4 linked regions of the Homo sapiens genome follow. The protein of the gene in region 1 interacts with the protein of each later gene in a pairwise test. Each region holds a gene or a part of one and is shown on either strand. Other genes may lie near its edges.

Region 1 (3,500 bases):
AATTGTTTGAACACTTGCCCCATAGATGATGCTGAATAATCCCCTATTTGCTGGAAATCCTCAGCTTCAAGAACAAATGAGACAACAGCTCCCAACTTTCCTCCAACAAGTGAGTAAGACAAGATGTTAGCTATCTTGGGTAATGATTTGCTTGAAAAAATTTGATGATAAACATTTTTCCTTGCTCTTCTCTGGCTGATAGCAAAACATAGAATAGAGACCAATAATGCTGTCAATTCGTAGAGAATTCAGCTTGATCTTCACTGAGTCCCATTTCACTGCTGACCTTTTGCTTATGTTTCTTAAACATACATTCTGAGGAAAGAACATTTTGTTTTTGCTTTTGAGGACCTAGGATTTTGAATGCTTTGTTAATACCATAAACCATTTCCTTTCATTGTACTAACTTTGAAGTGCTTCCTTGTGTCATGTTACGCTTTATGGTTTAACTAATTTTGAGTAACAGGAAAGAGCTACCCTATTCTATTTTATAGGTTTTCTTCCAAATTAGTAGAAGGCTTTTTTTCCCCAAGGGGTAGATCTCATTTCCTCAAACTCGGGATTAGTAAGATTAAAATAGTCAGTGTTGTCATATAAGGAAGTAAGGAAGGTTATAGTATAAACGAGTACTTGAGATTGCCATGGTATTTTATTATTTAAAACGACAAAAGAGAAGTCAGTCTTGGTGTTTTGAAACTGGTAGTTCTAGGGCCTCATGTATTATGCAAATGACTCTCAGACCTGTAAACCATTTTCCAAGGTTGGTGTCCTTGATCTATTGTAATGATGTAAGCCTATCTTTGGTTAGTCAGGTGGTGTATATTTGGAAGTAGTAAAGCTAAACTCAGGATACATGTATTAACGTCAAATTTGGAACTGTTGTTTTAGAGTGTACCTTACTGGTAAAATTGTTATATTAGTAACAGATAACACTTGGTTAGGTGGAATATGTGGCTTTTTACCATATCCACGTCGTAAGAATTGTGCCTTTGGAGGTTGTGTCTTAGAAGTAATACTTTATCTTCTGTTGGAGAAGGGGAATAGTTGTGGCTTCCAAAGTAGCTCCTGATTTTCTTCCATTATGGAAATGGCTTTCATGATGGACTTAGGAGGAGGTCAAGTAATAATTTGCACACTAGGTTTGCTGTCAAAGAGGAGATACTTGCGTTTATTTTGGGAAAGAAATTATGGATTACCAGTGTCCAGGAGTAAGGTTTTAGATTTTCTCCAGAAGCATAACAGAGAAAAGATTTAAAAATTTACGTTCACTGATTTTAATTCCTTTGTAACCACTAGTTTTCTTTCTTCCTTAGATGCAGAATCCTGATACACTATCAGCAATGTCAAACCCTAGAGCAATGCAGGCCTTGTTACAGATTCAGCAGGGTTTACAGACATTAGCAACGGAAGCCCCGGGCCTCATCCCAGGGTAGGCTTATTTGGGGAAGATAATGAAAGTGTATAATGGTTACTTTCTCTGAGAATTTCAGATTTAGTATTATTCTGCCTGCCTTTTTTTTTTTTTTTTTTTTTTTGGTGGGATACAGGGTCTCGCCCTTCGCCTAGGCTATGAGTGTGGGGGCGCAGTTGTGGCTCACTGCAGCCTCGACCTCTCGGGCTCAAGGGATTCTCTCACCTCAGCCTCCCAAGTAGCTGGGACTACAGGTGTGCACCACCACACCTAGCTAATTTATATATATAATTTGTTGTTGTTACTGTTTTTAGAGATGGAGCTTTGCCATGTTATCCAGGCTGGTCTCAAACTTCTGGGCTCAAGAGATTTGGCCTCCCAAAGTGGGATCAGAGACATGAGCCATAGCACCTGGTTCTCCCCCACCGTTTTTATTTATTTATTTACTTATTTATTTATTAAGAGATCGGTTTTTGCTCTTTTACCCTGGCTGAACTTGAACTTCTAAGCTCAGGTGATCCTCCCACCTCAGCCTCCCCAGTAGTTGGGACACAGTGCCTGGCTATGATTGTTTTTAAGTCAGGGTTTTCAAAGTTAAAAATGATTATTATTATTTTTTAAATTCCTTTTAGAGATAGTCTCACTCCATCGAGCAGACTGGAGTGCAGTGGCGCGATCTCAGCTCACTTCAGCCTCTACCTCCTGGGCTAAAGCAATCCTCTTACCTCAGCCTGCCAAGTAACTGATACTACAGGTGTGCACCAGCACACCCAGCTAATTTTGTTTTTATTTTTTGTAGAGATGAAGTCTCAACAATGTTGCCTAAGCTGATCTCAAATTCCTGGGCTGCTGGGATCATCGGTCTCCCAGAATGAGCCACTGCACCAGGCCAAAAGGGCTTATTTTAAGAAGATGGCTTAGCTTATATTAAAATGTAACTGATTTACGGACTGGCTTCTGGTTTTGCAGGACCTTAGGATATTTCCTATTTGTGCTTTCTGTAGGTTTACTCCTGGCTTGGGGGCATTAGGAAGCACTGGAGGCTCTTCGGGAACTAATGGATCTAACGCCACACCTAGTGAAAACACAAGTCCCACAGCAGGAACCACTGAACCTGGACATCAGCAGTTTATTCAGCAGATGCTGCAGGCTCTTGCTGGAGTAAATCCTCAGGTATCAGTTCTTTTCCATTCAAGTTTTGTATTCCTTAATGTTGGAAATTTAGAAATTTCCAAAAAGAAGGAAAAAGGGAGAAAAAAGGAAAGCAGTAGTTCTTAGGTGTTTAGATTAATGAAAAATACAGTCTTAAGGATATTGAGTAAGAAAACAGGCATTACAAAAATTGTTGACTTTGGTGCTGAGACACTAAAGGAAACGTTGTTACGGTTGTAGAGAAGACATGCTACAACCTAAAGTCTTATTTTTTAGAAATTGCCTTTAAAAATGCATTTTTTTTGTTCCTATTTGAAAATCATTTGAAATAGATTTTGCTTTAAAAAAGTTCTTAGGGAGGAATGGAAACTTGATTATCCCAAGTACCTCCAGGGCAGCTGTATTCTAGTCTGTCTTTTGACTGGAAAAAAGTCCTAACTACCTTAACTCCACCCATGACACCACCTCCTGCGGTAGCTTGTGTTACATATATATATATCTCGTAAATATGGCTAAAGAATATGGACCCCCTAATAATGTGGTTGCATCTACAAACATACATTGGTTTTACTAATAATGTGCCATTATATAAAGATGATCGCCAGTTTAAACCTGTTTTATTAGGTTGTCCCCAAACTTCTTAATGTCTCAAGGTCTGTTAGGTGCTTTCTGTTTTCTTTTCTGGGTTTCTTTTTTCTTTCCCTTTCTCCTTTCCCCTTTCCTTTTCCTCCTTCCTCTTCCCCTTTCCCTTTTCCCTTTCCTCTTCCCCTTCCCCCTTTCCCCTTTTTCCTCTTTCCCCTCTTTGCCTTTCCCTTTTTTTTTTTTCTTTCCCTTTCCCTTTTGACAAAGTGCCCAGGCTGGATGCAATCACAGCTCACTGCGACCTGCACCTCCTGGGCTGCAGCAATCCTCCCACCTTAGCCTCTGGAGTAGCTGG
Region 2 (3,500 bases), on another chromosome or scaffold:
TAATAATTTTGGAGGCTAAATCTGCTTTGCTCTTCAGGTTAATGAAAAGTAGCCTGAATGGAGATAACTTCCGAACACAGAAGCTGTCTTTTATCATTAGAACAGTGGGTCGACATTTTCCTGGACACTTACTGGCATGGGATTTTGTCAAAGAGAACTGGAATAAGCTTGTACAGAAGTAAGTTTCTCAGAGAATTATTAACTTTTAGTATTCTCAAGTTGTGCATTTGAAAAAAGCTCCCAGTGTTTTGGCTCACAGAAGTTAGGATTTGCTGTGAGAGGAAAAATACTTCCATGACAGTTTAACTGAAACATCCGGAAATTTTCACATTTGTTAACATAATTCCATAGCATGAATCATTTAACAGTAGCATTCCATCTAAGTTCTAATTAAGCCTAGCCTTGCTTGGCACCAGGTTACTTAGCTCAGCGTGGCTACAGACTATTTCATAGCAACCATTTAGCTATGCATATTGAAAAATACCTCTGTATGGCCGGGCGCGGTGGCTCACACCTTTAATCCCAGCACTTTGGGAGGCCGAGATGGGCGGATCACGAGGTCAGGAGATCGAGACCATCCTGGCTAACACGGTGAAACCCCATTTCCACTAAAAATACCAAAAATTAGCCGGGCATGGTGGCGGGTGCCTGTAGTCCCAGCTACTTGGGAGGCTGAGGCAAGAGAATGGTGTGAATCTGGGAGGCAGAACTTGCAGTGAGCCGAGATTGTGCCACTGCACTCCAGCCTAGGCAACAGGGCGAGACTCCGTCTCAAAAAAAAAAAACAAAAAGGAAAATACCTCTGCATTGCCAAGGCATCAGTTAAGAACTCACATTCAGCTAGATGCAGATGTAGGTTTTTTGCTTCTTTCTCTCTTTTAAATCAATAATGGCATTTCTGGGTGTACAGTGTGATCTTCGACAATGTTAAGCGGATTAATTGTCTGCATGTTCTGAACTCTTCCCTTTTTCTGCCCACCTTTCCTTCCCACCGACAATAAGTATGCATAGGGCTACCCCGGTTTCCTCAGTTGCAGTTCCGGGAGGAGGATTCCACTCTGGCTTTGGCATTAAAGACTTTTCCTTGCACTCAGGAACAACGCTTTACCAGCAGCTGCCTAATCTTTTTGCTCTTGTTTTTGTGTTTCTTCAGGTTCCCTCTGGGGTCCTATACCATACAAAATATTGTTGCTGGATCAACTTACCTGTTTTCAACAAAGACACATTTATCTGAGGTTGGTTTTATAAAATGATAATACAGAGACTGGGCAACCCTCCGCACACCCGGACCAGGCTGCTCAGTTTTAGTGAGATGGTGGATTTTCATGCTAATTCCTTCTCTTATCTCTGTCTTCCTTTATCAGTACTAATGATTCTGCATTGTGATTACTTCTAGAGGGTGGCATATATGATAATGAGGAAAAAATCTGATTCCATTCTCTTCCCTTGTCTCCCTAATACAAATAATTTAAGTGGTCATAAAATTGTTTGGAAGAATTGCATTCTTGGGGTGAATTCATAGCACCAAGCCTTTGGACTCTACTTTATTTATTGTTACTTAAACATCTCCTTGGTTCCATTTTAAGTTAGAAAAATGTATCTGTGTGGGAGTAAAAAGATTTCCTTTTTAAAATCATTTCAGATATCACCATACTTGATTGGGAACTCCATGTAGATACCTTGAATATTAAAGTACTTCTTTCTACTGCTTTCAAGATAGCAGCACAGCCATCACTAAGTTAAAGCTTATTTTAAAAGCTGGGGTTACCTGAGGTTTATCGTCCTTTTCTTCTTTTGAAATTCTTCTGTGTGAAACTTACAGGTTCAGGCATTCTTTGAAAATCAGTCAGAGGCAACCTTCCGGCTTCGTTGTGTCCAGGAGGCTTTGGAAGTCATTCAGTTGAATATCCAGTGGATGGAGAAGAACCTCAAAAGTCTCACATGGTGGCTGTAGCATGCACAACCGCACCTCATTTTGTTGCCCATTCAGAGAGCTTGTAAGCTTGGGCTCTGCCGCTTTTGCAAAAGCCAAGGTAAAGCCAGGATCGCTGCCAAGTTGTTTGCACTCTTTGGAGTTCTAGTTAGCTCAGGGCCTGACTGTATTTTTCATCCATCTTTTCTGAAGTGTCTTTGGGCAGTATGTAGTTATTTATTACAAAATTATATTCACCTAAATGCCAACCATCTACAAAAACAATGAGTAATTTTTCTACTTTGAAGATACACAGATGGGGACAAAAACCCTGTTTTGGAATTCTGTTCTATTCCTCAGTATCCAGAAAGTTACTGACACAGTAAAACAAGGAAAGTTCTACCCTAAGAGCCGCCATCACTTCAGGCCGCTGGTTTGTCAGCCATCTGTTGCTTCTTATTGATAGATGGCATTGGAATGTGGTACAAAGTTAGCTCTGAAGAATATGGTAACGAAGACAATAAAGCATGCACTGTAAGAACTGACCTCAGGTGTGCAGATCTACTTTGATTTGGGGTTTTGATTAATTCTTTATTTTTCTGAAAAAAAGTTTAAATAATGTCTGTAACTATTGTGTTTTTTTCCTGCCGAATAGCCAGGTGCTACAGATTTTTAAAATTTTTGTTGTATTGAAAAGCTAAACAAGGCCAAAAGGTTAAATTTTTTGAATATTTAAGACTTTCTTTTTCATCTTTTATAGCGTTACCATAGGAAACTGTTCCAAACTGAGTTAGCTTTAATTATAATTATTTTATTCATAAATGGTGATAGTCCCCAGATCTGTACACCTTTATCACTCCCTGCCGTAGATATACTTTAGGTTAGTATTTCTACATTCGTGGCAAGCATTTTGGTAACACCAGTGGTTTTCATTGTGACTTTTATCACTATCACTAAGAATGCAATTTAAGTTGCCTTTTGGCATCATAGATCATAGAAACTTTCTCTCTGAATCATACCCATGTGTGAATTTTCATTTTATATGATAGTGTAGCATATTAGAAGCATATTTTAAAACAGAGCCTTTGAGAAATTGAAAAACAATTATTTGAAGTTCACCATAGTACCTTAAAGGAACAAAGAGAATGTGGGATAGGAGTAACTTGAATTCGTGTTTAGTATGGTGGGCTTTGAATTTTTTTCACTATCAAAAATAGTGCTTTTGTTTAGTTAAAAATTGTAGTTTTTCTTTTTTTGTGTGTCCAAACTAACATAAAAGGAGTGGTCAAAGAAGGAAAGAAGAAAAATGAGGGAGGATGTCCGAAACTGTATGGCATTTTACTCCTTCTGAAAGAGAAATACTGTACTTGAATTTTTGAGCTATGCAGACTTATACCTAGATTGTTGTGTTTCTTTGATTCTTAGGAGAAAAGCTTTCTTCCTAATAATTCTTGAGAACTTTATATTTTGTTTGAAAACAGTTTCTATGTACATAAAAAGGGTATTTACCCATTTGTGAGCACTTAAAACACTCCACAGAGTCAGACAGTGGGAAAGGTCACCCTTTTTTTATTCGGCAGGTATCAAG
Region 3 (3,500 bases), on another chromosome or scaffold:
CACAATAATAGAATAATAATTTTTAAATTTCCAACAAACTATATTCATTATAGAATCTTTTAACCTATGCCAATTCCCTTTTTTATAAAATAATTAGAACTATTAAATTGCCGAATGAATCTGACATATTTGAACTTGAACTCTTCTAGCCTACAGTAGCCCTTCCACCCCTTCCTCCTATCATGTCATCTTCATTCCTATCATTCACTACCTGATATGTTTGTGTTTACTTGCATACTTATCTTCTTTCCACCCCTAGAAGTATAAATTCTCAGTAAAAATTTGTTGAATGAATTAACACATGACTCTCTCATTGTCTTTGTTTTGCTCAGGCCATACTAAAACGAAATGGTTAAAGTGGGCTGGGCATGACGGCAAATGCCTGTGATCTCAGCACTTTGGGAAGCCAAGGCAGGCAGACTGCTTGAGCTCAGGAGTTCGAGACCAGGCTGAGCAACATGGTGAAACCCCGTCTCCACAAAAAATAAAAAATTAGCCGGGCATGGCAGCACACCTGTAGTCTAAGTTACTTGGGAGACTGAGGTGGGAGGATCACTTAAGCCTTGGAGGTCGAGGCTGCAGTGAGCTAAAATCATGCCACTGCACTCCATTCTGGGTGACAGAGTAAGACCCTGTCTCAAAAGAAAAAAGAAATGGTTAGAGTTGCAGAGATATAAAAAAGAAGCAGGAGTATATGGAAAATCTATCCACTGAAAATCCTAATCCTGAATAACTATGTAAGCAACAGGAGACCATTATTAAATCATACCCATTGGCCAAAAGAAGTTATGGACCTTCCAGAATATTGAAACCTTATGATTTCCCACTTGGCATATACATTAAATACAAAAGGATACTATGTAAGATAATAGATGTTTTGAATGGTTACCATGAGGCCATCCTCAGGGAAGATTTGACAAACTCTAAGCTTCCTCTTTAATAACAACGTAACAGATAATACCTTTCAGCTTATAACACGTCTTAAAAGGATCAAACCCTTTTATGTGTATCATCATGGAATAAATTCACTTAACCCCACAAAAACTATCATATGCCCACAGGCAAGTACCCAAAAGCAATTGCCACCAAAGGCAGGTGCTGGGTTAGATTTGATCCAGAGCACAGTGCTTTATATCCAGTAGGTGATGAGGAAAAACTGGTGGAATAAATTCTTTACCGATGCGGAAAAATAAGACAGAGAGAAGTAAAATAGCTTGTATTAAGAGCAGGGGCAAAATGAGAGATTAACTTTTACTTGCACATTTAGTGGTATTTATCGGATGATACAGTAATGTCTCTCATATATAATTGTCCTAAGGGAGGAAAATGAGATACTGTATGTAAAAGTGACTAATATCTATTATGTCTGCTATATGTGGGTAGGCATCCAATAAATATTAATTCCCTCCGGAACTAATCTCCACTTAGGAAAAAAATTTGTCTAGCATGTCAAAATCTCTAGAAACCAATACATGAACTATATCTACAATTTGCCAAGATCAGTTTGATTTTTCTATTTACATGAAATAGAAATTTTGATTTAAATTTTAGGTAGAAAGTAAAAACGGGGAGCAATTTATCTTCTAGGCAACAGATGCCAGTTACATGACAACAAACAAACATTAGGTAATGACTCAGAAAGCAGGAGTTACAGGAACCCTATGCATCCACACGTTCATTTGGGGTTACGTCTGCTTGTAAATTATTTAAGACTTTCATGACAGCTGTTTGCATTCCAGTGTGTGATGGAGAAATGGACTTAAGGACAACCACCCATGGTACTTTAAAAAGACAGCAAATAATCCCTTCCTCCAAAGGTTAAAAATGTCCCTGCCTTCATCCCAGCCAGGGGATTAGCTGTTGAGGGCCTCACTTGGATTATGGGATGCTAAGGAACAGTTCCTTGTCTTCTGAGAGAATGCTCTTCGGTAAATTTCACAAGCCACCAATCTTCCTGTAATAGACTAGGGAATTCCTAAAGCTTTGTGCAGTTCAAGGCTGTACTTACTGCGGAGACATTTTCAAGTCCTTTTAGGTCCTCTTTAAATTTCTTTTTGGAACCACTGTCCTCGAGCATGCTTGCCCTCTTTGAGCCTCTTTCTCCAGCTGGCTCCCTGGTTCGGCTCTTTGCCCCTTGCCTCTCTGGTGCTGGCAGCAAGCTTCCAGGCCTGGTAGAGGCACTGGCCTTTGAGGTATCATTGGCTGCCTTCTCAGTGGTGGCATCTGTGGAGTCTTTTGAGCCAGTAGCTTTAGAAGAGTGGGTGGTGCACACCGTTGGGCTCAGGCCTTGGGGTGGCGTCACACTTTGGTGGGCTTGAGTGGGCTGCAGGTAGATGGCATAGGATGGGCCTGAAGGGGCCTGAGGTAGGATCAGGGGCACTGCTGATGACAAGGGGCTGGGGATCAGGGGAACCATTCCCAGGGGCTGGATGAGGGACGGTGCTGTCAGCTCCATCTCAGCATTCACTGGGGGGTCCAGAGGGGCTACTGGTTTGCAGGGTCCAGATCTTGCCAGCTGTACTTTCACTTTCTGTCTGGATTCACTGAAAGACAAGATTTAATACACGACATGATGGATATACATTTTTTCTGAACTGTTCTACCGCTTTAAGCCTCATATTGAAGCCACGCTTTTATGGAACATGCAGATAATTTCTGTAATGAGTGAGTATGAGATACAGAAAAGATTAGCTCTCCAGTTCAAGGCTAGGGCTTCTTCTCACATAAAATAAGTAATCCTAACAATGTAATGTAAAAGTAATTCATCCTGTTATTAAAGAGGATTGCCAACCTACCTTGATTGCTCTTCTAACTGCATTTTACAAATAGCTGCGAGCTGAGCCATTTTACTTGGGAAGGGTGCAGAATTCTGAGAACTCTCAGCTGGTAAAATAGAAAGGAAGAGAGCACCGGTCAAAGCTAAAGAACAAATGTTCACACAGATGAAACCTCACTGAAGTCAGAGGAACAGAAAGTGTGCACCTCCCCTCAAAGTTGCATAGCGATTAAACAATAAACCCCACAAATGACTTTTTAAATTTATACATTAGTTAGGCTTCAAGAGGGTTTGGGTATATAGATATTGAAATAATTCTCTGACAACTATTGCAAGGATCAAGTAAGCTGAAAAAATGAGATAAAAGGGAATTCTTCCTAGCAGATCCCTGACATTCCTGAAAACATACCTTTGTTGGTCTTGATAGGGCTACTGGGCGCAGAATTTATCTTTCTCCGATCACTTTCTATACTCTTTACCAATTTGATAAGAGATGGGTGTCGAGTAAAGTTTGGTTTCCCACGTGTGGAAAAGAGGTTTTTGGCACAGTTCTCTTTTGAAGACCGTCTCACCTCCAAATCAGAGGGAGTAAAATGAATGACTGGGCTGGAGCCTGAAACAGAAAACGTCTGTGTATTAAAACCTGGATGGCTCAGTTGGCTTTTGGGATATGAAATAAAACAATTTTAGGAATAAAAGTGGCAAGTTACAGAGCACCGACCAT
Region 4 (3,500 bases), on another chromosome or scaffold:
TTTATTTACAAAATTAAAAATAAATAAAAATAACTGAGAAAATCAGAATACCTCTTTGCATGAATAATAGTTTCAATTATATAAACAGACATGGGGGGAAAAATGGAAGGAAATACACAAAAATAACTGGAGGTAGAATCTTTGGTGATTTTTTTTCTCATTTTGTTTTCTAAATTGCTATAATAAACAATATTCCTCTAAAAACATAAACATTAAACACTTTAATATAGAAAACAGTAAATATTCTCCCATTGGATTTTCTTTCTTTTCTTTGTAACTATATATTATTCTATCATAATCTTTCCTATGATTCCTGAGTATAGCTTACAATGTCTGGTCTGGGAGAGCTGTTTGTCCAAAATGAGCTAACTCTGCCACTGCCTGGAGGCTGGGGATAAGGCAGGCAAAATGACCTTTCAATGTCTGCCCCTTACTGGCTGTGTGATCTTGGCCAACTTAAACTTCCTGTGCCTCAATTTTCTCATCTGTAGGATGGGGCAGTAATAGAGTTAATAAGGAGATACAAATGTTAGGTTCTCAGAGTAGTACCTAGCACATAGTCAGAGCTCTTCATTGCTAGTTCCTGTCATGAAAAGGAGGAGGACAACAATGACCTATGATCTCCGAGAGTGAACATCTTATAAATTTAAATTCAAATTCCCATTCTACCATTTAGTATCTCTAGGAGTCTCAATTTATGGACTTTCTTTCTTTTCTTTTTTATTTTTCCTTATTTTGAGATAGAGTCTGGCTCTGTTGCCCAGGCTGGAGTGCTGTGGCACATCTCAGCTCACTGCACCCTCCGCCACCTGGGTTTAAGCTATTCTCCTGCCTCAGCCTCCCGACTAGCTGGAATTACAGGCACGTGCCACCATGCCCGGCTAATTTTTTGTAGTTTTAATAGAGACGGGGTTAGCCAGGAAGGTCTCGATCTCCTGACCTCGTGATCCCCTCGCCTTGGCCTCCCAAAGTGCTGAGATTATAGGCGTGAGCCACCGCGCCCGGCCTGGTTTCACTCTTTCTCTTTTGATTCTTTCCTGAGGCAGCATTAGTTTAGCATCTAATTGCTACTTAGACGTCTCTTCCTGTAGGTGAAATAAAAATCCAGCATCTTCTCCAGCAGAGGGCGGTGTCTTCACACCTTGTACTGTCTAGACCAACTTTGTCCAATAGAAACACAAAGCAAACCACATAGGGAGTTTTAAATGTTCCAGCGGCCATATTTTTAAAAGTAAAAAGAAACAGGTGAAATTAATTTTATTTAACCTAACATATTCAAATATTGTCCTTTAACATATCATCAATGTAAAAGTTATTACTGGGATATTTTGCATTCTTTTCTTCATACTAAGGGTTCCAAATCTTGTATATTTTGCATTCACAGCCTGTCCCAATTTGGCCTTGCCACATTTCAAGTGTTCAGTAGCCACAAGTGACTTGTGGCTACCGTACTGGACAGAGCAGGCCTAGGCAGTCTCTTCTGCAAGCCGCTGATGCACTGAGTATCAAGCTGAGAAAATGTTTGCTCACACAGGAAGCTAAACAGAAAAATAATGCTTAATGAGAAAGCATCCAGGTGAAAGACCACATCTTTTCACCAGCATGACAAATACAACTGTAGCATATTAGTAAAAAATATTTCTAGAATACAAAATTCCCCCAGAGTTCAGAATCTCAGCTAATTAAAATTCGTAACGAAGGCTTTCTTTTGGGGGATGATGAAAATGTTCTAGAAGCAATTATAGTGATGGTTGCATGACTCTGTGAATATACTAAAAAACATTGAACACTTTTTTTTTTTTTTTTTTGGAGACAGAGTCTTGCTCCGTCATCCAGGCTGGAGTGCAGTGGTGCAATCTCAGCTCACTGCAACCTCCACCTCCCAGGTTCAAGTGATTCTCCTGCCTCAGCCTCCCAAGTAGCTGGAATTACAGGTGCACACCACCATGCCCAGTTAATTTTTGTATTTTTAGTAGAGACAAGTTCTCACCATGTTGGCCAGGCTAGTCTCAAACTCTTGACCTCAAGTGATCCACTTGCCTTGGCCTCCCAAAATGCTGGGATTACAGGCATGAGCCACCACACCTGGCCTAATCACTGAATTGAACACTTTTAATGGGTGAACTGTATGGTATGTGAACACTATCTCAACAAAGCTATTTTAAAATTTTATAAAGAAATCAAAAGTAGAAGGGATCCCACTCCAAAAGCCTATCTAATTTGGGGCCGATGATGTTAAATGTACTTTAAAATAAAGAACAAGTTACAGACACTAAATTCTTGACATAGCTATTCAAGGGTGTTGGCAGGATGTGAAAATTTACAGTTCCAGCCCCTGAGGTTGTGAGAGTATCTTGACTCTATCTTGCTTGAGATAAATGTCTTGTGATTATAGTGGCTATGCTCATGGATAGAAATGTTATCTTCCTAAAAGGTCCACTTATGGGATTTGTTGGTTAATTGTGTAGTGGATTCCAAGGGAAAGAATGGTTTTTATTTGAATCCTATCCCTCACTGCCCACCTCCCCCACCACCCTGAGTCCTGCTTTACCAAAATACTTTCTATGAGTAAATGTTACCAAAGCAAACAACTTTCTCCAATAGTCCATACCTTTTTATATTATGGTACTAACTTTTCCCTCAACATAATCACAATATACTAATTTCTTTTTTTTTTCTTTTCTTTTCTTTTTCTTTTTTTTTTTTTTTTTTTTTTTTTTTTTGAGACAGAGTCTCAGTCTATCGCCCAGGCTGGAGTGCAGTGGCATGATCTTGGCTCACTGCAACCTCCATCTCCCTGGTTCAAGTGATTCTCCTGCCTCAGCCTCTCGAGTAGCTGGGATTACAGGTGCATGCCACTATGCCTGGCTAATTTTTGTATTTTTAGTAGAGATGGGGGTTTCACCATGTTGGCCAGGCTGGTCTTGAACTCCTGACCTCAAGTGATCCACACTCCTCGGTCTCCCAAAGTGCTAAGACTACAGACGTGAGCCACTGTACCGAGCCTAATTTCCTATTCTTAATGGAAACTTACTGCAGGCATGTTAGAGAAACTTAAGCAGCAACTACCATGAAGGGGAAAAGAAGACCATTTGATTTATTCAAAATGGTAGCATTATCTAAGCCGGAGTTACTTCCTCCTGGTCTATCAATTCCACAAGATGGATAAGCTTCCCCCACTCTTGCATGGTTTGACAAGCTATAAAAAGCTCCTAAGTTTACTTTCAATTTCTCCCTCAACTCAGTGGGAAACGTTATAGCAAGGGCTACGGTCAAAGGATTTTTTGTTTGTTTGTTTAAATAAAGAAAACCTCTGATCCATGAGCTGCAGTAGAAAGTTAATTCTGGCCTTGAAATCAGACGACCAGTTCAGCCGTTAATTAGTTGTAATGGGTCTTGGGCAAGACTCACAAATTTTTTGCAAGAGGTTAATGTATAGAGCAAATGAGATGAGAAATGTCAGATCCAGTTTTCTCCTCTATAATTGGTGCTAATTCCTC

The links.
Region 2: the proteins of UBQLN1 (region 1) and LNPEP interact in binary tests that used the Homo sapiens proteins (3 or more experiments, as listed by UniProt).
Region 3: the proteins of UBQLN1 (region 1) and E2F8 interact in binary tests that used the Homo sapiens proteins (3 or more experiments, as listed by UniProt).
Region 4: the proteins of UBQLN1 (region 1) and SRGN interact in binary tests that used the Homo sapiens proteins (3 or more experiments, as listed by UniProt).

What each region holds. Positions count from the first base shown.
Region 1 is NC_000009.12:83,662,959-83,666,458, reverse strand, and holds part of UBQLN1 (ubiquilin-1), read left to right. Parts: intron 1-25; coding exon 26-109; intron 110-1,313; coding exon 1,314-1,429; intron 1,430-2,415; coding exon 2,416-2,584; intron 2,585-3,500. UniProt on the Homo sapiens protein: Plays an important role in the regulation of different protein degradation mechanisms and pathways including ubiquitin-proteasome system (UPS), autophagy and endoplasmic reticulum-associated protein degradation (ERAD) pathway.
Region 2 is NC_000005.10:97,026,580-97,030,079, forward strand, and holds part of LNPEP (leucyl-cystinyl aminopeptidase), read left to right. Parts: intron 1-37; coding exon 38-178; intron 179-1,153; coding exon 1,154-1,235; intron 1,236-1,822; coding exon 1,823-1,954; 3' UTR 1,955-3,500. UniProt on the Homo sapiens protein: Release of an N-terminal amino acid, cleaves before cysteine, leucine as well as other amino acids. Degrades peptide hormones such as oxytocin, vasopressin and angiotensin III, and plays a role in maintaining homeostasis during pregnancy.
Region 3 is NC_000011.10:19,227,446-19,230,945, forward strand, and holds part of E2F8 (transcription factor E2F8), read right to left. Parts: intron 3,390-3,500; coding exon 3,186-3,389; intron 2,884-3,185; coding exon 2,796-2,883; intron 2,544-2,795; coding exon 2,009-2,543; intron 1-2,008. UniProt on the Homo sapiens protein: Atypical E2F transcription factor that participates in various processes such as angiogenesis and polyploidization of specialized cells.
Region 4 is NC_000010.11:69,091,103-69,094,602, reverse strand, and holds part of SRGN (serglycin isoform 1 precursor), read right to left. Parts: intron 1-3,500. UniProt on the Homo sapiens protein: Plays a role in formation of mast cell secretory granules and mediates storage of various compounds in secretory vesicles. Required for storage of some proteases in both connective tissue and mucosal mast cells and for storage of granzyme B in T-lymphocytes.